3 separate regions of the Homo sapiens genome follow, and regions 2 and 3 are each linked to region 1. Evidence: fine-mapped expression QTL. A gene starts in region 1. Each other region holds a variant in brackets. All regions are shown on one strand. Distances are between the middles of the regions. Region 1 holds the start of NAPSA (napsin A aspartic peptidase). Region 2 overlaps LOC105372437 (a long non-coding RNA gene). Region 3 overlaps SPIB (Spi-B transcription factor).

Region 1 (7,439 bases):
ATTCAGCCTTATTCTCCCACATAGAAGCTCACAGCAGGGCACACTGAAGAAGTGGCATCTCCTGGACGGGACCCAGAGATTGGAGGAGCCAGTGTCAAAGGCAACAGTGAAGTTTTGTGGAGGCGTTCCCAGCCCAATTTCCCCAAAATACTGCACCTGATAGCAAAAGAGGAGAGTAAACGAAGAGTTTGGCTCAAGGGCGCAGGGGTGAGGGCTGTGTGGGGCTGTGACTCACATCCCTGTAGTTCGAGAGAGGTACGAAGATGGGCTTGTCCCCAGGGGATGGGGCCCCCAACTTGGGGAGCTCTGCTGGTTCTCTCCATCCCCTCAGTAGGTTCAGGATCCTGCGTCCAGGTTGGACTCGATGAAGAGGGATGCTGTAGGGAAAGAGGATATTGACAGGAAGCTGCCCTTCTTGGAGAACCTCTAAATAGACTTACCCAAATAGGATATGATGACAAATTCAACATCTCCAAGGCACTACAATAGTAGTCAGTACCAGAAACCCTGCAATAACAACCTCCAGAAAAGCCCATCAAAGATGCCATGATGACAAATATCCCCAAAGACTTTACAAGAGCAAACCATCCCAAACAGACCTTTCCATGTCCAAATCCCTTAAAATAAGCTATTCCCAAGGAATTGACATTCTTAAAGATTTCCCAAGACCCTAACAGAAAACCTAACCTTTGCAAAAGCCCTTGGGTGGTGGCCCCTGCATGCTTCAGTTCGTGAGGTTAGGGACTATTTTCCCCACCCTTGAGGAGAAAAATGTAAGCGTCAAATCTTAATTGTCTTGCTGTGTTGCCCGTGCTGATCTCAAACTCCTGGCCTCAGCCTCCTAAAGTGCTGGGATTACAGAGGAGAGCCACTATGCCCTGTCCGGGTTCCTTTAAACTGTATTTGCAAAAGCAGGAGGCAAACAGGATTTGGCCCTTAAGCTGAGTGTTTGCAACCCTTGACTTAGAGGGCCAATTACAATTCAGGTATCTTAGTTGCTAATTAAGTAGGTCTAGGATGGAGCCGAGAATTTGGATTTCTAACAAGTTCCCAGGTCATGACGATGCTGTTGATACAACATTTGGAGACTCATTTTCTTTGCATTGACTTAGAAAATGGCCATGAGACATTAGGTTCAAAAAGCAGGTTAACAAGCACCATGTGCGGTAATATCTTCGTTCCTGCCTTTAGTCACTCCTTGAAGCACTTGTCACATCACTCACACCTTTCCCGTCACCCCCCATGAGTCAGTCTTTGAGAGGCACGAGAATGTGAAGTGGGGAAAACTCTTCCTGGAAGTGTACACCCCTCCCCCTACCAAGAGTTCCAGGGAATGAAGACAAGAGAGGAGAAAAAGAGAGATGGGGGCGGGGAGGGGACATCAGAGGTAAGGTAGTGGGAAGACTTCTTGCATAGGGTCCCCAAGATTGGATTTCTTTTTCTTCTTTTAAACTTTTTATTTGAAACAGGGTCTCCCTCTGTCACCCAGGCTGGAGTGCAGTAGTGCAGTCAGGGCTCACTGCAGCCTTGATCTCCAGGGCTCAAGTGATTCTCCCACCTCAGCCTCTGGAGTAGCTGAGACTATGGGCACACCACCACACCTGGCTTTTTATTTTATTTTATTTTATTTATTAATTTTTTTTTTAGACAAGGTGTCACCCTGTTGCCCAGCCTGGAGTGCAGTAGCAGGATCATAGCCCACTGCCCCCTCGAACTACTGGGCTCAAGCAATCCTCCTTCCTCACCCTCCTGAACTAGCTGGGACCATGGGTGTGCACCACCACACTGAGCTAATTTTTGTATTTTTTGTAGAGGTGGAGTCTGGCCATGTTGCCCAGGCTGGTCTCAAAACTCTTGGCCTCAAACAAGCTTCCCACCTTGGACTTCCAAAGTGCTGGGTTACAGGTGTGAGCCATGTCTCTGGCCAAAAACATGACTTCTTCAGGCCAGTTTGATGGGCGTGATGTGGGGGAGTCTCAGTTTAAATGTCACATATCTGGGGCTCGAAGATGGGAGGAGTGTGTCACAGGTCTGGAAACCACAGTACCTAATCATCAGAGCTCATAGTAGGGTCTGCAGAGACCTCTCAAAAACATGTCCTGGCCAGGCGCAGTGGCTCACGCCTGTAATCCCAGCACTTTGGGAGGCTGAGGCAGGCAGATCACGAAGTCAGGAGTTCAAGACCAGCTTGGCCAACATGGTGAAACCTCATCTCTACTAAAGATACAAAAAAAATTAGCCGGGCATGGTGACTCACGCCTGTAATCCCAGCACTTTCAGAGGCAGGAGAATGGTGTCAGCCTGGGAGGTGGAGGTTGCAGTGAGCTGAGATCGCGCCATTGCACTCCAGCCTGGGCGACAGGGCAAGACTCCGTCTCAAAAAAAAAAAAAAAAAAAGGCCAGGCGCGGTGGCTTACGCCTGTAATCCCAGCACTTTGCGAGGCTGAGGTGGGTGGATCACGAGGTCAGGAGATCGAGACCATCCTGGCTAACACTGTGAAACCCCATCTCTACTAAAAATACAAAAAATTAGCCGGGCGTGGTGGCGGGTGCCTGTAGTCCCAGCTGCTTGGGAGGCTGAGGCAGGAGAATGATGTGAACCCGGGGGACAGAGCTTGCAGTGAGCCAAGATTGCGCCACTGCACTCCAGCCTGGGCAACAGAGTGAGACTCAGTCTCAAAAAAAAAAAAAAAAAAAAAGTCCTGAGAGGAGGGGGAGGGGTCCTCAATCTAGAGTCTCAGTGTTGTAAGATCTGGGACTTAAAAGGGCTCTGGGACCGGACGCGGGGGCTCACAGCTGTAACCACAGCACTTTTGGAGGCTGAGGCGGAAAGATCACTTGAGGTCAGGAGTTCAAGACAGCCTGGCAAACATGGCGAAACCCCATCTCTACTAAAAATACAAAAATTAGCCGGGCGTGGTGGCATGTGCCTGTAGTCCCAGCTACTTGGGAGGCTGAGGCAGGAGAATCACTTGAACCCGGGAGGCAGAGGTTGCAGTGAGCTGAGATCGCCCCACTGCACTCCAGCCTGGGTAACAGAGCAAGACTCTGTCTCAAATAATAATAATAATAATAAATAATAATAATAATAATAATAATAATAAAAGGGCTCTGGTCAGCCAGGCGCGGTGGCTCACGCCTGTAATCCCAGCACTTTGGGAGGCCGAGGTGAGCGGATCACGAGGTCAGGGGTTCCAGACCAGCCTGGCCAACATGGTGAAACCCCGTCTCTACTAAAAATACAAAAATTAGCTGAGCATGGTGGCGCGAGCCTGTAATCCCAGCTACTTGGGAAGCTGAGGCAGGAGAATCGCTTGAACCCAGGAGGCAGAGGTTTCAGTGAGCTGAGATCATGCCATTGCACTCCAGCCTGGGCAACAGAGTGAGACTCCATCTCAAAAAAAAGAAATCTGGTCTTAAGAGATGTCAGAGTGGAGCCCTTAGGGGTGACAGCCTGGTTTAGAGATCTGGAAAGCTGAGAAAGAAGCTCTAGGGATCCTGGGTGCCAAGTTTGGGGATCACTGAACTGGGAGTCCTAGACTTAAAGGGCAAGAGGCAGAAAATCCCTCCTAAGGTTGGGGTGGTAGATGGGGTCACCATACCGGATCAGTGTGGCCCCGGAAGGCTCCACATTCAGCAGAGGCAGCAGCAGCAGCAGGGGTTGCAGCAGCGGTGGTGGAGACATCGCTGGGGACCTGGGTGTGAACCCAGGTGTCCTGGGGCCTCATTTTCTTTCCCCTGTGACTCCACCCTGTTCATGCCCCACCTCCAGGTTTAGAAGGAGACCAGGACATGAAATCTGTCCGCAGGTGACGCAGTGGGACAAGGATGTTTTTTGAAGATTTGTGCAGAGTATTTTTGTAGGGTTGGCAGAAGTAGCATCCTGTGCTCCTGGTGCTCCTCACTCCCTACTTGGGTGGCAGTGGTGGTGGGGTCTCCTCCACCGTCACCACCTCCCACCCCCCCATCCTTCAGCTGCTGTCAGTTTTACTTTTAACTTTCACATAACTTTTCTGAGACTTATTAACCACAAGTGTTTCCTTGGCCAAGTGGGAGAGACCAGCAGGTATCTGTGAAGGGCCTGGGGGAAGGGAGAAAGGACATGATTAGACACCTGCCCTCACATATGAAGTGGGCCCGCATTTCAGGACCCAGTCTCTTACTGTTTTATTTGTAGGTGAAGTATGTTTCTTGTTGACAACAGATCATTGGGTATTGTTTTTTGTTTGTTTGTTTTTGTTTTTGTTTTTTGGTTTTTTTTTTTTTGAGACCGAGTTTCACTCTTGTTGCCCAGGCTGGGATTACAGGCATGCGCAACCACGCCCCACTAATTTTGTAGTTTTAGTAGAGACAGGGTTTCTCCATGTTGGTCAGGCTGGTCTAGAACTCCCGACCTCAGGTGATCCGCCCGCCTCAGCCTCCTAAAGTGCTGGGATTACAGGCGTGAGCCACTGCACCCAGCTGATTCTCAATTATTTCAATCTCTTTGTTAAATTTATGTGATGGAATCTGAATTCCTTCTGTGTGTTAGCTTGAATTTCTTTGAGTTTCCTCAAAACAGCTATTTTAAATTCTCTGTCGGAAAGGTCACATATCTCTGTTTCTTCAAGGATTGGTCCTTGGTGGCTTATTTGATTTGTTTGGTAAGGTCATTTATTCTGGATGGCCTTGATGCTTATAGATGTTCATTGGTGGCTGGGCATTGATGAGTTATTTATTTATTTATTTATTTATTTATTTATTTATTTATTTAGATGGAGTTTTGCTCTTGTTGCCCAAGCTGCAGTGCAATGGTGTGATCTCAGCTCACTGCAACCTCTGCCTCCCAGGTGCAAGTAATTCTGCCTCAGCCTCCCGAGTAGCTGGGACTACAGGCACCCGATACCACCCTGGCTAAATTTTTTTTTTTTTTTTGAGATGGAGTTTCACTCTTATTGCCTAGGCTGGAGTGTAATGGCGCCATCTTGGCTCACTGCAACCTCTGCCTCCTGAGTTCAAGCGATTGTCCTGTCTCAGCCTCCCAAGTAGCTGGGATTATAGGCGCATGCCAGCTAGTTTTTGTATTTTTAGTAAAGACAGGGTTTCATCATATTGGTCAGGCTGGTCTCGAACTCCTGACCTCAGGTGATCCACCTGCCTCGGCCTCCCAAAGTGCTGGGATTACAGGCATGAGCCACCGCACCCAGCCTACACCCAGCTAATTTTTGTATTTTTAGAAGAGACAGGGTTTCACCATGTTGTCTAGCCTGGTCTCAAACTCCTGACCTCAGGTGATCTTCCTGCTTCAGCCTCCCAAAATGCTGGGATTAGACATGAGCCACCATGCCTGGCCATGTTAGGTATTTATTGTAGTCTTTGCAGACAAGGCTTGTTTGTACCTGTCCTTTTTGGGGAGGCTTTCCAGGTATTCAAAAGTACTTGGGTGTTGTGATCTAAGCCATGTCTGCATTAGGGGGCTCCCCAAGCCCATTAATGCTGTGGTTCTTGCAAACTCATAGAGGTACTATCTTAGTGGTCTTAGATAAGATCCAGAAGATTTATCTGGATTACCAGGCAGAGACTCTTGCTCTCTTCCCTTGCTTTCTCTCAAACAGAGTCAGTCTCTCTCTCTCCCTCTCTCTCTCTCTCTCTCTCTCTCTCTCTCTGTCTCTGTCTCTCTCTCTCTGCTGAGCTACCTGGAGCTGGGAGTGGGGTGACACAAACACCCCATGCCTACTATCACTGGGATTGCGCTGGGTCCTGCCCATGGCCTCCTGTAACCACGACCTACCTGCCTACTGCTTATGTTTGCTCAAGGCCCTTGGGCTCTAAAACTAGCAGGTTCCAAAGGCAGCCATGCTTGCATCCTTCCCTTCAGGGCATCAAGTTACCTCAGGTCCCAGGTGGGTCCAGAGATACAGTCAGTGAGCCAGGGACTGGAGTCAAAACCCTTAGAAATCGGCTGGATGCGGTAACTCATGCCTGTAATCCCAGCACTTTAGGAGGCTGAGGCAGGCGGATCACTTGAGGTCAGGAGTTCGAGGCCAGTCTGGCCAACATGGTGAAACCCTGTCTCTACTAAAAATACAAAAATTAGCCAGGCGTGGTGGTCAGCGCCTGTAATCCCAGCTACTCGGAAGGCCGAGGCAGGAGAATCACTTGAACCTGGGAGGCGGAAGTTGCAGTGAGCCAAGATCGCGCTGCTACACTCCAGTCTGGGCGACAGAGCAAGACTCCCTCTCAAAAAAAAAAAAAAAAAAAAAAGAAACAAAAGAAAGGCTAGGTGCGGTGGGGGTGCGTTTGGGAGGCTGGGGGTGTCATCCCAGCCCTTTGGAAGGCTGAGGCAGGAGGATCGCTTGCGCCTGGGAGTTGGAGACCAGCCTGGGCAACAAAGGGAGACCCTGTCTGTACAAAAAAAATGTAAAAATTATCTGGGCGTAATGGCACACTCCTGTAGTCCCAGCTACTGGGGAAGGTGAGGCTGGAGGATAACTTGAGCCTAGGAGGCTGAAGCTGCAGTGAGCCGTCATCACGCCACTGCACTCCATCCCAGGTGACAGAGTGAGACACTGTCTCAACAGAAATAAATAAATACATAAATAATGGTAAAGATCCACTTTGTGCACTCCTTGCTCTGGGGGATTTTCCTGAAGCAGCCGAACGTGTCCCTGATAACTGTCACCACCCCCCTTTGTTTTCTCAGTCAGAGCACTCGATCTGGGCCCCTTCAACTCGCCCCGCACGCTTTCCGTCTGCAGCACCCCATCCAACTGCACCCAAGCGCCCTTAAGTAGTTTGAGAGGCCGTGCCTGCAAATTCCCAATTGGCCACAAGGTGGAGGTGTGGGCCTGTTTTCCCAGCCAAGATTCCCCAGCCGCCACCCGTTTCTAGAGCTGGACCCCTGGAACACCAGGCTCTCTCCAGCTTTCCTGCTTCCGCCCTAGCAGTTCCCACCGCCTGGAATGCCGACTTGCTCGCTCTCTGCACCCCACGGGAAAAGGAGCAGAACAGGCTTCCTCCCTGACTCCCCTGCCCAAGCGTACTGGGAGATCTCCTGCCGAACACGGCCCGGCCAATGGGACCTGGATCTCCCCATGTCTTGTCTCTCAGGGGGTTGTGACCGAGTGGGCCTCCACCATCAGAGGAGCACAGTTTCCAGAATCGCCCAACACAATCTTTCCCGAATCCCCTCAGGAAGTGATTAGGTAAAGGATTGCCAGATTTTTAAACCCGTCATTTTATTTACTAACCTTGTAAGAAAGGAATTATCGCCCACATTTTACCGGGTTGGGGAGGGGCTGCTGCGGTGCAGCAAGATTAAGAGGAGGCAGCCCAGGTGCACTTGGAGGGGAATTGAACCTGGTTCTTGAAGCTGCAGACACCAAGTAATCAGCCCAGATGCCTCGCATCGTCTTTGCCAGGATTACTTTTGCCCCTGTTCCATTGGTGGGAATCTGTCA
Region 2 (7,439 bases), 22 kb before region 1:
GATGAGAGGAGCATGAATTCTGCTAAGGTGCAGACATAAATGATTACCAGTCATTATTCCAGAGGTCAAAATATTTGCAGCTTCCCCAATTACTCCTGCAGATTACATCACTACTGTAGAACCTGATTGGCCTTTTGAGACTAAGGGTTTTTGCATTTCTGGTGATGCCACCCAGACCTGCCAACCAGTCCTGTGGCTCCACCCAGAAGCAGACTATTTTCCAGGCCCCTATGAATGATTACATCCTTGACCAATCAGCAGCACCCATTCCCAGGCCTGACAAACTATCCTTGAAAAACCCTGGCCTCCAAATGTTAGGGGAGGCTAATTTGTTGTTTTCATTTTGTTTTTTTATGAGATGGAGTCTCACTCTGTCACCCAGGCTGGAGTACATTGGCATGATCTCAGCTCACTGCAACCTCCACCCCCTGGGTTCAAGTGATTCTCCTCCCTCAGCCTCCTAAGTAGCTGGGATTACAGGCACCAACCACCATACTCAGCTAGTTTTTCTATTTGTAGTAGAGACGGGGTTTCATCATGTTGGCCAGGCTGGTCTTGAACTCCTAACCTCAGGTGATCCACCCGCCTCGGCCTCCCAAAGTGCTGGGATTATAGGCGTGAGCTGCCATGCCCACCTCTGATTTGAGTAATAATAAAACTCTGGTCTCCTGCTCAGCCAGTGGCTCGGCATAAATTAAACTCTTTCTCTATTGCCGCTTTCCTATCTTGATAAATTGGCTGTATCTGGGCAGCAGGCAGAAAGAACCAGCTAGGCGGTTACAGTGGCCAACAATGGGTACAGCTTAGTTCTGCTTTGGAACATACATAGAATGGAACCCCATTTGACCTCTAAGAAGGAGGAAGTAGCTGTCTATACCAGTCATTCTCAAACTTTATTTAGCATGACCCAAAATCACCTACAGCAGTGGTGTTGGGCAAATCTTTGTGTAGAGGCTTTGCAGGCCAGACAGTCTCTGTGGTAACTATTCAAATCTGTCCAGATAGCATGAAAGCAACTGCAGACAACAGATGCTATGGAAATGAATGCGCATGCTGACTCCAGTTTTGTTAGAGACAGGGTCTCACTCTGTTGCCCAGGCTGGAGAGCAATGACACGATTGTGGCTCACTGCAGTCTCAAACTCCTAGGCTCAAAGGTCATCTTGTCTCAGCCTGCCAAGTAGCTGGAATCAGGCATATGCCACCACATCCTAGCTAATTTTTTTTTCATTTTTTGTAGAGATAAGTTCTTGCTAAGTTGCCCAGGCTGGTCTCAAATTCTTGGCCCCAAGCAATTCTGCCTCGGCCCTGCAAAGTGTTGGGGTTACAGGCATGAGCCACTACATCTGGCCTAGATTCCCTTTAGCTTATTTGTAAAAGGGAAATAGCACGCAGGGTTTGACCCTCAGGCTCAGTGTTTGCCAAGCCCAGACTCAGAGGGCTGGTTCAAATTCAGATCTCTTAATTTTTAAGTAGATCTGGGATGGGGCTTGAGAATTTGCATTTCTAACAAGGTCCTGGGCCATGCTAATGCTATTGGTTTTGAGACAACATTCTGAGACTCACTGTTCTTTGCATTGACTTGGAAAATGTCCGTGATATATTAGGTTTGCAAAGCAGATGAATAGGGAATGATGAATTCATTGAACCTTACACCAGCAACATCTATACTCTCAGAGTCCTGGGAGAATTTCAGATTGTAAATCCTTACTTATTCAAAGATCTTACTGAGGTGGGAGGATTACTTGAGGCCAGGAGTTCATGACCAGTCTAGGAAACATAGTGAGACCCCCCATCTCTACAAAAAAAGAAAATCTTAAAAAAAAGCTGGTTAACAAACATAATGTGCAGTAATTTTTAAAATAAATTTTATATTTAATGATTTTTTTGTAGAAAGAGATGGGGTCTCACTATGTTGGCCAGGTTGGTCTTGAACTCTTGGCCTCAAGCAATCCTCCAGGCCTCTGCCTTCCATAGTGCTAGGATTACAGGTGTGAGCCACCATGGCTGGCCTCATGCAGTAATTTTTTTTTTTTTTTTTTTTGAGATGGAGTCTCGCTCTGTTGCCCAGACTGGAGTGCAGTGCCATGATCTTGGCTCACTGCAAGCTCCGCCTCCCAGGTTCACGCCATTCTCCTGCCTCAGCCTCCTGAGTACCTGGGACTACAGGCGCCCACCACCACGCCCGACTAATTTTTTTGTATTTTTAGTAGAGTTGGGGTTTCACCATGTTAGCCAGGATGGTCTCGATCTCCTGACCTTGTGATCTACCTGCCTCGGCCTCCCAAAGAGCTGGGATTACAGGCATAAGGCACCACGCCCAGCCTGCAGTAATATTTTTGTACCCAATTTTAGTCACTCCTTGGAGCATGACACCCTCACTCACACCTTTGCCCTCACCCCTCATGACTCAGTCTTTGAAAGGCACAAGAACGAGAAGTGGGGAAAACACTTTCCGGAAAATACACCCCTCCCCCTGCGAAGAGCCCCAAGGGGTAAGGAGAAGAGAAGAGAAGAGGGGAAGGGAGAAATTGGGGAAGCATCAGAGGTAAGGTAGGGGAGAACTTCTTGGGTGGGGTCCCCAAAACTGGACTTCTTTTTTTTTTGAGACAGGACCTCCCTTGTCGCCCAGGCTAGAGTACAGTAGCTCAATCATAGCTCACTGCAGCCTCAAAACCCTGGGTTCAAATGGTCCTCCCACCTCAGCCTCCCAAGTAGCTAAGACTACAGGCACCTGTCACCGTGCCTGGCTG[AT/A]TTTTTTTTTCTGTAGAGACTGGGGGTCTCACTATGTTGCCCAAGCTAGTCTTGAACTCCTAGCCTCAAGCAGTTCTCCTACCTTGGCCTCCCAAAGTGCTGAGTTGACAGTGGTGAGCCATTGTGCTCAGACAAAAAAATAGACTTCTTGAGGCCTAAACAATTTGGAGGGTGTGAATGTGGGGGAGTCTTAGTTTAAATGTCACATGCCTTGGTCTCCAAGATGGCGGGAATGTGTCACATGTCTGGAGACCCCCATAACTGGTCATCAGAGCTTGGAGTGGGATCTGCAGAGGCCTCCAAAAAAACATATCCAGAGAAGAAGGGGAGGGTTCCTCACTCAAGAGTCTTAGTGAAGGCCGGGTGTGGTGGCTCGCGCCTGTAATCCCAGCACTTTGGGAGGCCGAGGCGGACAGATCGCGAGTTCAGGAGTTCAAGACCAGCCTGGCCAACATGGTGAAACCCCATCTCTACTAAAAATACAAAAATTAGCCAGGCATGGTGGTGCGTGCCTGTAATCCCAGCTACTTGGGAAGCTGAGGCAGGAGAATCGCTTGAACCCAGGAGGCGGAGGTTGCAGTGAGCCGAGACCACGCCACTGCACTCCAGCCTGGCAACAGAGTGAGACTCCGTTTCAAAAAAAAAAAAAAACAAAAAAAACAAAAAAAGAGTCTCAGTGTTGGAGGATCTGGGACTTAAAAGGGCTCTGGGCTGGACATGGTAGTTCACGTCTGTAATTCCAGCACTTTGGGAAGCTGAGGTGAGAGGATTGCTCGAGCCCAGGACATGGAGACCAGCCTGCAAAACATAGGGATACCCTCTTCTTTACAAAAAATTTCAAAAATTAGCTGGGCATGGTGACACATGCCTGTAGTCCCAGCTACTTGGGAGGCTGAGGTGGAAGAATGGCTTAAGACCACGAGTTTGAGGCTGCAGTGAGCCATGATCGCACTACTGCACTCCAGCCTGGGTGACACAGCAAGACCCAATCTCAACAAATAAATAAATAAAAAGAAAAAAATTATTTTAAAAAAGGAGCTCTGAGCCAGACGTGGTGGCTCACGCCTGTAATCCCAGCACTTTGGGAGGCTGAGGTGGGCAGATCACCTAAGGTCGGGAGTTCAAGACCAGCCTGATCAACATGGAGAAACCCCATCTCTACTAAAAATACAAAATTAGCCGGGGTGGTGTGGCACATGCCTGTAATCCCAGCTACTTGGGAGGCTGAGGCAGGAGAATCGCTTGAACCCAGGAGGTGGAGGTTGTGGTGAGCCAAGATCGTGCCATTGCACTCCAGCCTGGGCAACAAGAGTGAAACTCTGTCTCAAAAAAAATAAATAAATAAAAGGGAGCTCTGATCTTAGGAGATGTCAGAGTAGAGCCCTCGGGGTGAGAGCCCACTTTAGAGATCTGGAAAGCCAAGAAAGAAGAGTCAAGGATCCTGGGTGCCAGGTTTGGGAATCACTGAACCAGGAGCCCCAGACTTAAAGGGCAAAAAGCAGAGAATCCCTCCCAGGTTTGGGGGTGGCAAATGGGGTCACCATACCGGATCAGTGTGGCCCCAGCAGGCTCCACATTCAGCAGAGGCAGCAGCAGCAGCAAGGGTAGCAGCAGCAGTGGTGGAGACATTGCTGGGGAGCCGGGTGTGAACCCAGGCTTCCTAGTTTTCTTTCCCCTGTGACTCCACCCTGTTTATGCCCCACCTCCCGGTTTAGGAGGTGACCAGAACACGAGGTCTCTCAGCAGGTGACACAGGGGGACAAGGATGTTTTTGAAGATTTGTGCAGAGTATTTGTGTAGTGTCAACAAAAGTTGTATCCTGTGTCCTTAGTGCTCCTCATTCCCTACTTGGGGGGTGGTGGTCGTGGGGTGTCCTCTGCTGGGACTGCCTCCCACCCCCCATCCTTTAGCCTCTGTCACTTTTACTTCTCACTTTCACATCACTTTTCTGAGACTCATTAACCACAGTGTTTCCTTGGCCAAGTGGGAGGGACCAGCAGGTGTCTGTGAAGGGCCTGGGGAAGGGAGAGAGGAACTGATTATAAGCCTGCCCTCCCATATGAAGTGGGACTGCCTGCGTCTGAGGACCCAGACTCTTATTTGTAGGTGAAGTATGTTTCTTGTAAGCAACAAAACATTGGGTCTTCTTTTTCATCCATTCATCCGTTCTATATCTTTTTATTCGAGAGTTTAGTCCATTTACATTCAATGTTGTTCTTGATAAGGACGTCCTCCTGACATTTTGTTACTTGTTTTCTGGTTGTTTTGTAGTATTCTCTTCTTTCTGTCCTTCTTTCATGTTATTTATTTATTTATTTATTCATTTATTTTTGAGACAGAATCTCATTGTCGCCCAGGCTGGAGTGCCGTGGTGCAATCTCGGCTCACTGCAACCTCTGCCTCCTGGATTCAAGCGATTCTCGCCTCAGCCTCCCGAGTAGCTGGGACTACAGGCGCGTGCCACTGCACCTGGCTAATTTATGTATTTTTAATAGAGATTTGGTTTCATGATGTTGGCCATACTGATCTCAAACTCCTGACTTCAGGTGATCCACCCGCCTCAGCCTCCCAGAGTGCTGGGATTACACATGTGAGCCACCACACCTGGCCTCTGTTTTCCTTTTAGAGAAGATAATTTTCCTTGGTCATATGATTTAATTTTTTGCTTTTTTTTTTGTATCTGTTGTATGTTTTTTGATTTGAGGTTACCATGAGGCTTGCAAATATTGTCTTTTTTTTTTTTTTTTTTTGAGATGGAATCTCGCTCTGTTACCCAAGCTGGAGTGCAGTGGCTCGATCTCGGCTCACTGCAAGCTCTGCCTCCTGGGTTGACGCCATTCTCCTGCCTCAGCCTCCAGGGTAGCTGGGACTACAGGTGCCTGCCACCACACCTGGCTATTTTTTTTTTTTTTTTTTTGTATATTTAGTAGAGACGAGGTTTCACCGTGTTAGCCAGGATGGCCTCGATCTCCTGACCTCATGATCCGCCTGCCTTGGCCTCCCAAAGTGCTGGGGTTACAGGCGTAAGCCACTGTGCCCTGCCATAAATACTATCTTATAACCCATTATTTTAAGCTGACAACATAAACTTAACACTGTTTGCATAAACAAACCAACAAACCAACAAACAATAAGAAAATTAGTAAAAACTCTACACCTTCACTTTGTCCCCAACTTTTTAACTTTTTGTTGTTTGTATTTATATCTTATTGTACTGTCTATGTCTTGAAGCGTTGTTGTAGTTATTATTTTTGATTGGTTCATCCTTTAGTTTTTCTACTTAAGAGTTGTTCACACACCATAGTTATACTGTTACAATACACCATGTTTTTCTGTGTGCTTACTATTAGCAGTGAGTTTTGTACCTTCAGATGATTTTTTTTTTTTTTTTTGAGACGGAGTCTTGCTCTGTCACCCAGGCTGGAGTGCAGTGGTGCGATCTCAGCTCACTGCAAGCTCCACCTCCCGGGTTCATGCCATTTTCCTGCCTCAGCCTCCCGAGTAGCTGGGACTACAGGCACCCACCACCACATCCGGCTAATTTTTTTGTATTTTTAGTAGAGACGGGGTTTCACCGTGTTAGCCAGGATGGTCTCGATCTCCTGACCTCGTGATCCACATGTCTCTGCCTTCCAAAGTGCTGGGATTACACACGTGAGCCACCGCGTCTGGCCCAGATGATTTTTTATCACTCATTAACATGCTTTTCTTTCTGACTGAAGTACTCCCTTTAGCATTTCTTGTAGGACAGATCCGGTGTTGATGAAATTCCTCAGCTTTGTTTGTTCTGGGAGAGTCTTTATTTCTCCTTCATGCTTGAAGAATATTTTCACTGGATATGCTATTCTAGTGTAGCAGGACAAGCTGTGGAGAAAACCCCACAGACACCGAGATAGTGAAGGAAGTAGCTTTTAATCAGCTGGAAGCATCAGCAGACTAGCATCTTAAAATTCAAGCTTGTTGAGTGCACAATTTCTGTCGCTTTTAAGGGTTCACAACACTAAAGATTTTACATGAAAGGACCGTGATTGATTGAGCAATCTAGGGGGTATGTGACAGGGGCTGCATGCACCAGTAATCAGAGCAAAGCAGAACAGAACGAGAAGTTTCACAATGTCTTTCCATACAATGTCTGGAATTTATGGATAATCGGTTGCTAGGTCATGGGTTGAATTTTAACTATCAGGCTAAGGTCAGGCAGGCCCAGGCCTGGTTTTGGGTCTGGTTTTGGGTCTGGTGCATGGCGCCGGGCTGCCTGCCTTTGGTTTCGCTTCCTTGTTTCTTCTTAAAACAGGTACTGAGTATGAAACAATATAGAACAATATGGGGGGGTCTCTTTCTCTCTTCTCTCATTTCCCCGCTTTGAGACTCTCACTCATGGTATTAGTGGAAGTTCTCACTTTCATTTTTACTACTTATGTCTTCCTGTGCAATAGATTGATAGTGATTCAAATAATATACTCGTGCTGAAGCATTCTGGTGAACTAAGGTAGTGATGAAGCTTTTTATCATTTGAAGAAGTATAGGTAGCAAACAAGGGAGTAGTAAGCGGATTCCTATTACTATTATAACTCCTATTATAAGAGTTTTAAGCCCTCCTATTGCTGGGAACCAATTTCCAAACATGGCCTCAGGATCAAATCCGTGCCACACTCGCACTGTACATGTGCCAGTTTTGTTATATCT
Region 3 (7,439 bases), 59 kb after region 1:
CAACACATGATTCATGGGGCGAATCAACATATGGAGATTTATTTATTTATTTATTTATTGAGACAGAGTTTTGCTCTGTCGCCGGGCTGGAGTACAGTGGTGCGATCTCGGCTCACTGCAACCTCAGCCTCCTGGGTTCAAGCGATTCTCCTGCCTCAGCCTCCCAAGTAGCTGGGACTACAGGTGCGCACCACCATGCCTGGCTAATTTTTGTATTTTTAGTAGAGACGGGGTTTCACCATGTTGGCCAGGCTGGTATCGATCTCCTGACCTCATGATCTGCCTGCCTTGGCCTTCCAAAGTGCTGGGATTACAGGCATGAGCCACCATGCCCGGCCTATTTATTTTTCGAGACAGAGTCTCACTCTGTCACCCAGGCTGGAGTGCAGTGGCGCGATCTCAGCTCACTGCAACCTCCACCTCCCAGGTTCAAGCGATTCTCCTGCCTCGGCCTCCAGAGTAGCTGGGATTACAGACATCTGCCACCAGGCCCAGCTAATTTTTGTATTTTCAGTAGAGATGGGGTTTCCCCATGTTGTGCAGGCTGGTCTCGAACTCCTGACCTCAGGTGATTCACTGGCCTCAGCCTCCCAAAGTGCTAGGATTACAGGCGTGCGCCACCACGCCTAGCTAATTTTTGTATTTTTAGTAGAGACGGGATTTCACCATGTTGGCTAGACTGGTCTTGAACTCCTGACCTCAGGTGATCTGCCCGCCTCGGCCCCCCAAAGTGTTGGGATGACAGGCGTGAGCCACCACGCCTGGCCTGGAGGTGTATTTAAAAAGCATTGACCCCTGCCTCTGTTAAGTGAAACACTTCCATTTCCCCTTGCCCTTCACCTCCGGAGCCCCCAGGCAGGCAAGGCTGGGGGAGTTCTTCCACCCCTTCTCCAGGCGCCCTGATTCGCTGACTGTGTGCCAGTGAGGGGCCAGGGTTCTTGGGAGCCCACCGTCTTAGCAGGAGCTGGCTGCTGTGTGCCCCTATTGGGTTGTGTCTCTACTCTCTGTATCTCTGTCTCTTTGTCCCTGTCTCTGATGCCTAGTCTCTGTGTTTCTTTGTTGCTCTAATCTCTCCAGCATCCCCTCTTCTCTCCCATGTCTGTGTTGGAGTCTCCCCAAGGGTCCAGGGTGGGGGTTGGGAGTCCCCAAGGCCTGGGATGACCCCTCTTCCCTCCTGCACCCCGTATCAGTACCCAGATGGCGTCTTCTATGACCTGGACAGCTGCAAGCATTCCAGCTACCCTGATTCAGAGGGGGCTCCTGGTGAGTGACCCCAGCCCTGTGCCCTTCCTGCCTTGGGGCCCATTTCACAGATAGGGGAGCTGAGGCCCAGGGGAGGTCATTTCCTAGCACAACAGGATAAAGGTGGCCCGGGCCTATAGCCCTCCTCCCCTTTCCTCTCCTACCCATCCGCTCCTCCATGCAAATCCTGGGGTCAGAGATTTGCACAGCCTACAATGGCCTCTCTGTGCTGGGGGCTTCGACTGCGAGGAGGCCTCCGTGAGACATCCCAGCTTCTGACTCAGTGCCCTTCCCCCAGACTCCCTGTGGGACTGGACTGTGGCCCCACCTGTCCCAGCCACCCCCTATGAAGCCTTCGACCCGGCAGCAGCCGCTTTTAGCCACCCCCAGGCTGCCCAGCTCTGCTACGAACCCCCCACCTACAGCCCTGCAGGGAACCTCGAACTGGCCCCCAGCCTGGAGGCCCCGGGGCCTGGCCTCCCTGCATACCCCACGGAGAACTTCGCTAGCCAGGTGAGTGGTAAGGGGACAGTTAAAATCAAGCCCAAACCAGGTGTGGTGGTGCACGCCTGTAATCCCAGCTGCTTGAGAGGCTGAGGTGGGAGGAGGATTGCTTGAGCCCAGAAGGTCGAGGCAATCCACTGCACTCCAGTCTGGGCAACAGAGCAAGACCCTGTCTCAAAAAAAAAAAAAAAAAAGAAAAAGAAAAGAAAACTCAAGCTCAGTCATTTGGTTGAGGTTTGCTGGGTGCCGGGCACTGCATTGAGACTGCACATAGTAAGCCCTGCAGCGGCCTCCCAGGTTACGTTCCGTTGTTGCCCCTCTGAACAAGTGAGTCAAGAGAGGTAGTGACAGGAAGCCAGGGACAGGGCAGACTCGCATTACCTGTGTTGGGCCGGCTTTGAGGAGGTACCTCAGGTGTCCCCTGGCCACAGCGTGGTGATCTGAACAAAGGCCAAAATCTAGGCTGTCAACAAAGAGGGAGACCAGAGCCAGGAGGGCCACCGCCTTGGCCTGAGAGGAGGAAGTGGAGGGAGACAAGGGGTCCCTGGACATGCAGGTGACCCTGACCTTCCGCAGACCCTGGTTCCCCCGGCATATGCCCCGTACCCCAGCCCTGTGCTATCAGAGGAGGAAGACTTACCGTTGGACAGCCCTGCCCTGGAGGTCTCGGACAGCGAGTCGGATGAGGCCCTCGTGGCTGGCCCCGAGGGGAAGGGATCCGAGGCAGGTATGCGGGAGTGGCTGGGGTGGGGGAGATGCCAGCTGGAGATGGTGGGGGGGCTGAGAGCACCATGGCTTCCTGGGCCTCTACATATACTCCAGCACTCTGGGCAGCTCCCAGATCCGCACCACCTGCTGGCTGTGTGACCTTGGGTAAGTGCCTCTACCTCTCTGTGCCCAGGTTTCCTGTCTGTGCGATGGGGATGGAGGTGATAGTGTCTACCCTCCTGAGGTCGTTGGGGGGACTAAATGGGATAGTAAGTGTAAATGGGACAGCAGTGCCAGGCACAGAGTGAGCACTTCAATAAGTCAACCTCTTCACCATCATTCCCGACACCACAGCAACAGAAATGATAATGCTATCAACCCCCAACGGTTCAACCCTTGCCCCCTGCCCGTGTGCCCAACATCCTTTATGCTCAACCCCAAGAAAGCTGAGATCGTTCCTTCCTTTCTGTGTCTGGGCCTCGGTTTCTCGTCTGTAAAGTGGGCATCACTGTCATCCTCCCCATCTCACGGGGTTATGATGGAGATTCAATGAGCTCATAACTGTAAAGTGCCTTGTGAAGCACCTGGCACTACATGCTCCACGGTGCATTGTAAAAATCAACACACAGGCTGGGTGTGGTGGCTCACGCCTGTAATCCCAGCACTTTGGGAGGCTGAGGCGGTCAGATCAACTGAGGTCAGGAGTTCGAGACCAGCCTGGCCAACATGGCAAAACCCCGTCTCTACTAAAAACACAAAAATTAGGCTGGGCATGGTGGCTCATGCCTTTAATCCCAGCACTTTGAGAGGCTGAGGAGGATGGATCACGAGGTCAAGAGATCGAGACCATCCTGGCCAACATGGTGAAACCTCACATTTACTAAAAATACAAAAATTAGCTAGGCGTGGTGGTGTGCACCTGTAGTCCCAGCTACTCGGGAGGCTGAGGCAGAAGAATCGCTTGAACCCAGGAGGCAGAG[G/C]TTGCAGTAAGCCGAGATCTTGCCACTGCAGTCCAGCCTGGCGACAGAGTAAGACTCTGTCTTAAAAAAAAAGAAAAAAGAAAGAAAAAAAAATTAATGGGGCATGGTGGTACATGCCTGTAATCCCAGCTACTCAGGAGGCTGAGGCAGGAGAGTTGCTGGAACCCAGGAGGCAAAGGTTGCAGTGAGCTGAGATTGCACCACTGGACTCCAGCCTGGGTGACAGAGCAAGACTCCGTCTCAAAAACAAACAAACAAAACCACAGCCTCATTTAAAAAATTTTAATTAATTAATTAATTTATTTTTTGAGACAGAGTCTCGCTCTGTTACCCAGGCTGGAGTGCAGTGGCACGATCTCGGCCCACTGCAACCTCCACCTTCTGGGTTCAAGCAATCCTCCTGCCTCAGCCTCCGCAGTAGCTGGGATCACAGGCACCCACACCATACCCAGCTATTTTTTGTATTTTTAGTAGAGATGGGGTTTCACCATCTGGCCAGGCTGGTCTCAAACTCCTGACCTCAGGTGATCCGCCCGTCTCGGCCTCACAAAGTGCTGGGATTACAGGCGTGAGCCACTGTGCCCAGCCACACAGCCTCATTTGTGGCTGAGAGACTTCAGCTCAGAGAGGTTAATTAAGTCACCTATTTTAACTTAGGACATTTAAGATGGAGAGGATCTCTCCAATGACTAGGAAAGACACAAGATGGAAATAAAGATTTTATTTATTTTTATTCATTTATTTGAGACGGTCTCCATCTGTCACCCAGGCTGAAGCGCAGTGGCGCAATCTCGGCTCACTACTGCCTCAAACTCCTGGGCTCAATCGATCCTCCTGCCTCAGCCTCCTGAGTAGCTAGGACCACAGGCGTACACCACCACACCTGACTAATTTTTAAAATTTTTGTAGAGGTGAGGTCTCGCTATGTTGCCCAGGCTGAACTCCCAACTCCTGAGCCTATGTGCTCCTCCCACCTCAGCCTCCCAAAGTGCTGAAGTTACAGGCATGAGCCACCACACCCAGCCAGAAATAAATTATTTTATGGCTTATAGGTCCTGGGGCATACATGGCACGCCTGGAGGCCACACACACCAGGTCAGGGAGCGCAGGCAGGGAGGGAGAGAGAGAGGGACCAGTGGACTGACGCCTTTATTGGGTCCAAGGCGTCGGCCAAACAGGTTTCCTGAGGGGGTTTTAATTGGTGGGTTCAGGCCAGGCACAGTGGCTCATGCCTATAATCCCAGCACTTTGGGAGGCTGAGGCTGGTAGATCACCTAACGTCAGGAGTTCAAGACCAGCCTAGCCAACATGGTGAAACCCCGTCTCTACTAAAAATACAAAAATTAGCTGGGCCTGGTGGTGCACGCCTGTAATCCCAGCTACTTGGGAGGCTGAGGCAGGAGAATCGCTTGAATCCAGGAGGCAGAGTTTGCAGTGAGCTGAGATCATGCCACTGCACTCCAGCCTGGGCAACAGAGCAAGACTCCAGCTCAAAATAAATAAATAAATAAATACTTGGTGGGTTGAAAGCAAGCAGGATCAAGTTCCAGGAGGTCACGCTGTGCCTGAGAGGGGGTCACTGAGGCATCTGCACAGTCCATGCAGGGCCGTCAAGTAGGCTGTCCATGGCTCTCCCACAGGGAGGTGGTCACCAGGAGTCAGTTGCATAAGAGAGATATCTGGGTCAGCCACACTGAGGAACTCGGGGAGGGAGATGTAGAACTGCCAAGGAGGACAGCCCTGCTTCCAGCATGAGAATGTCCAACTTTTATTTAGTTTTATTTTATTTTATTTTGAGAGGGAGTTTCGCTCTTGTTGCCCAGGCTGAGTGCAATGATATGATTTCAGCTCACTGCAACCTCTGCCTCCTGGGCTAAAGTGATTCTCCTGCCTCAGCCTCCCAAGTAGCTGGGATTACAGGCATGAGCCAAGCACACCCAGCTAATTTTTGTATTTTTAGTAGAAACCGGGTTTCATCATGTTGGCCAGGCTTGTCTCGAACTCCTGACCTCAAGTGATCTGCCCACCTTGGCCTCCCAAAGTGCTGGGATCACAGGCATGGCCCACCGCGCCCAGCCTCCAACTTATACTTTCGATGAATGCCGAGGCAGCCTAAAATTATAAGAATTCAATCCGGGTGCAGTGGCTCACACCTGTAATCCCAGCATTTTGGGAGGCCGAGGTGGGAGGATCACCTGAGGCCAGGAGTTCAAGACCAGCCTGGGCAACATAGTAAGACACCATCTCTACAAAAAATAAAACAATTAGCTAGGCATGATGGTGCATACTTGTAGTCCCAGCTACTGGGGAGGCTGGGGCAGGAGGATTGCTTAGGCCCAGGAGGTCGAGGCTGCAGTGAGCTGTGATTGCTCCTCTGCACTCCATCCTGGGTGACAGAACGAGACCCTGCCTTGAAAAAAAAGAAATTAAGATGTCACTACGTCACCACCCCAAGGTCACACTGCTGTAAAATGGCAGAGATGGGATTCTTGTAGCCAGTGCCCTGCTTTGAAACTCCCAGTTATTGGCCGGGCGCAGTGGCTCATGCCTGTAATCCCAGCACTTTGGGAGGTCGAGGTGGGCGGATCACCTGAGGCCAGGAGTTCGAGACCAGCCTGGCCAACATGGCGAAACCCCGTCTCTACTAAAAATATAAAAATAAGCCGGGCATGGTGGCAGACGTCTGTAGTCCCAGGTACTCGGGAGGCTGAGGCAGCAGAATTGCTCGAACCCAGGAGGCAGAGGCTGCAGTAAGCCGAGATTGCGCCATTGCACTCCAGCCTGGGCCGCAGAGCAAGACCCCGTCTCAAAAACAAACTAAACCCTAGGAGCCCAGGAGTCAGGTGCCCTGGCCTCTCCCGGGACCCTGTCCCGCTTTGGGCTGAGAGGCTGGGAGACCAGGAGCTGGAGAGATAGCCAGGCCAATGCAACTGCCTCCAGATCTGTTCGCCTCTCCGTTATAATCCTTTAAGCGGCGCTGTCAACCCATTTCACAGATTCTTTCATCCACTAGCTCAACAAATATGGAATATTACGTGCTGGCCGCAGGGCGGAAGGCAGGACAGATGTAAATCTCGAAAATTAAAGCACAGAACGCGGAGGGGGCCTGGGGCTGACAGCTTCGGGCAGGGGGAGTGGCTTGCCCCCCCCCCCCCCCGTGGTGAGGGGCGCAGAGCCAGGTGTATGTAACAGCCACTTCCCTCACCCCACTTTTCAGATCCAGGAGATGGAGGCCGGGGTGGAAGTCTCGGAGGAGGGTGGATGGGGAAGGCGGGGCCTTAGGGACCCCTCACCTAACGCGTGCCCCCGACCCCACCGCAGGGACTCGCAAGAAGCTGCGCCTGTACCAGTTCCTGCTGGGGCTACTGACGCGCGGGGACATGCGTGAGTGCGTGTGGTGGGTGGAGCCAGGCGCCGGCGTCTTCCAGTTCTCCTCCAAGCACAAGGAACTCCTGGCGCGCCGCTGGGGCCAGCAGAAGGGGAACCGCAAGCGCATGACCTACCAGAAGCTGGCGCGCGCCCTCCGAAACTACGCCAAGACCGGCGAGATCCGCAAGGTCAAGCGCAAGCTCACCTACCAGTTCGACAGCGCGCTGCTGCCTGCAGTCCGCCGGGCCTGAGCACACCCGAGGCTCCCACCTGCGGAGCCGCTGGGGGACCTCACGTCCCAGCCAGGATCCCCCTGGAAGAAAAAGGGCGTCCCCACACTCTAGGTGATAGGACTTACGCATCCCCACCTTTTGGGGTAAGGGGAGTGCTGCCCTGCCATAATCCCCAAGCCCAGCCCGGGCCTGTCTGGGATTCCCCACTTGTGCCTGGGGTCCTCTGGGATTTCTTTGTCATGTACAGACTCCCTGGGATCCTCATGTTTTGGGTGACAGGACCTATGGACCACTATACTCGGGGAGGCAGGGTAGCAGTTCTTCCAGAATCCCAAGAGCTTCTCTGGGATTTTCTTGTGATATCTGATTCCCCAGTGAGGCCTGGGACGTTTTTAAGATCGCT

What was found. PIP is the estimated chance that this variant, and not a neighbour inherited with it, causes the effect.
Region 2: its variant is fine-mapped to the expression of NAPSA in whole blood (TOPMed, PIP above 0.99).
Region 3: its variant is fine-mapped to the expression of NAPSA in whole blood (TOPMed, PIP above 0.99).

The regions. Positions count from the first base shown.
Region 1 is chr19:50,361,937-50,369,375 of GRCh38, forward strand. It overlaps NAPSA (napsin A aspartic peptidase), which reads right to left and starts at 3,703. Exons shown (of 9, transcript NM_004851.3): 1 at 3,603-3,703; 2 at 236-377; 3 at 33-156. The coding sequence starts at 3,685. The region is part of intron 3 of LOC105372437 (a long non-coding RNA gene); the gene reads left to right. RefSeq lists enhancers at 3,904-4,053, 6,847-6,906.
Region 2 is chr19:50,340,374-50,347,812 of GRCh38, forward strand. The region is part of intron 2 of LOC105372437 (a long non-coding RNA gene); the gene reads left to right. It also overlaps the pseudogene NAPSB. Among named protein-coding and RNA genes, the nearest start is that of KCNC3, 15 kb to the left of the region's middle. RefSeq lists enhancers at 2,196-2,435, 4,266-4,315, 6,948-7,097. The variant AT/A (reference allele first, on the strand shown) is at 2,753.
Region 3 is chr19:50,421,283-50,428,721 of GRCh38, forward strand. It overlaps SPIB (Spi-B transcription factor), which reads left to right. Exons shown (of 6, transcript NM_003121.5): 3 at 1,191-1,263; 4 at 1,541-1,755; 5 at 2,323-2,473; 6 at 6,756-7,439. The coding sequence ends at 7,054. Among named protein-coding and RNA genes, the nearest start is that of SPIB, 6.1 kb to the left of the region's middle. RefSeq lists enhancers at 6,375-6,948, 6,949-7,439, 7,077-7,366. The variant G/C (reference allele first, on the strand shown) is at 3,435.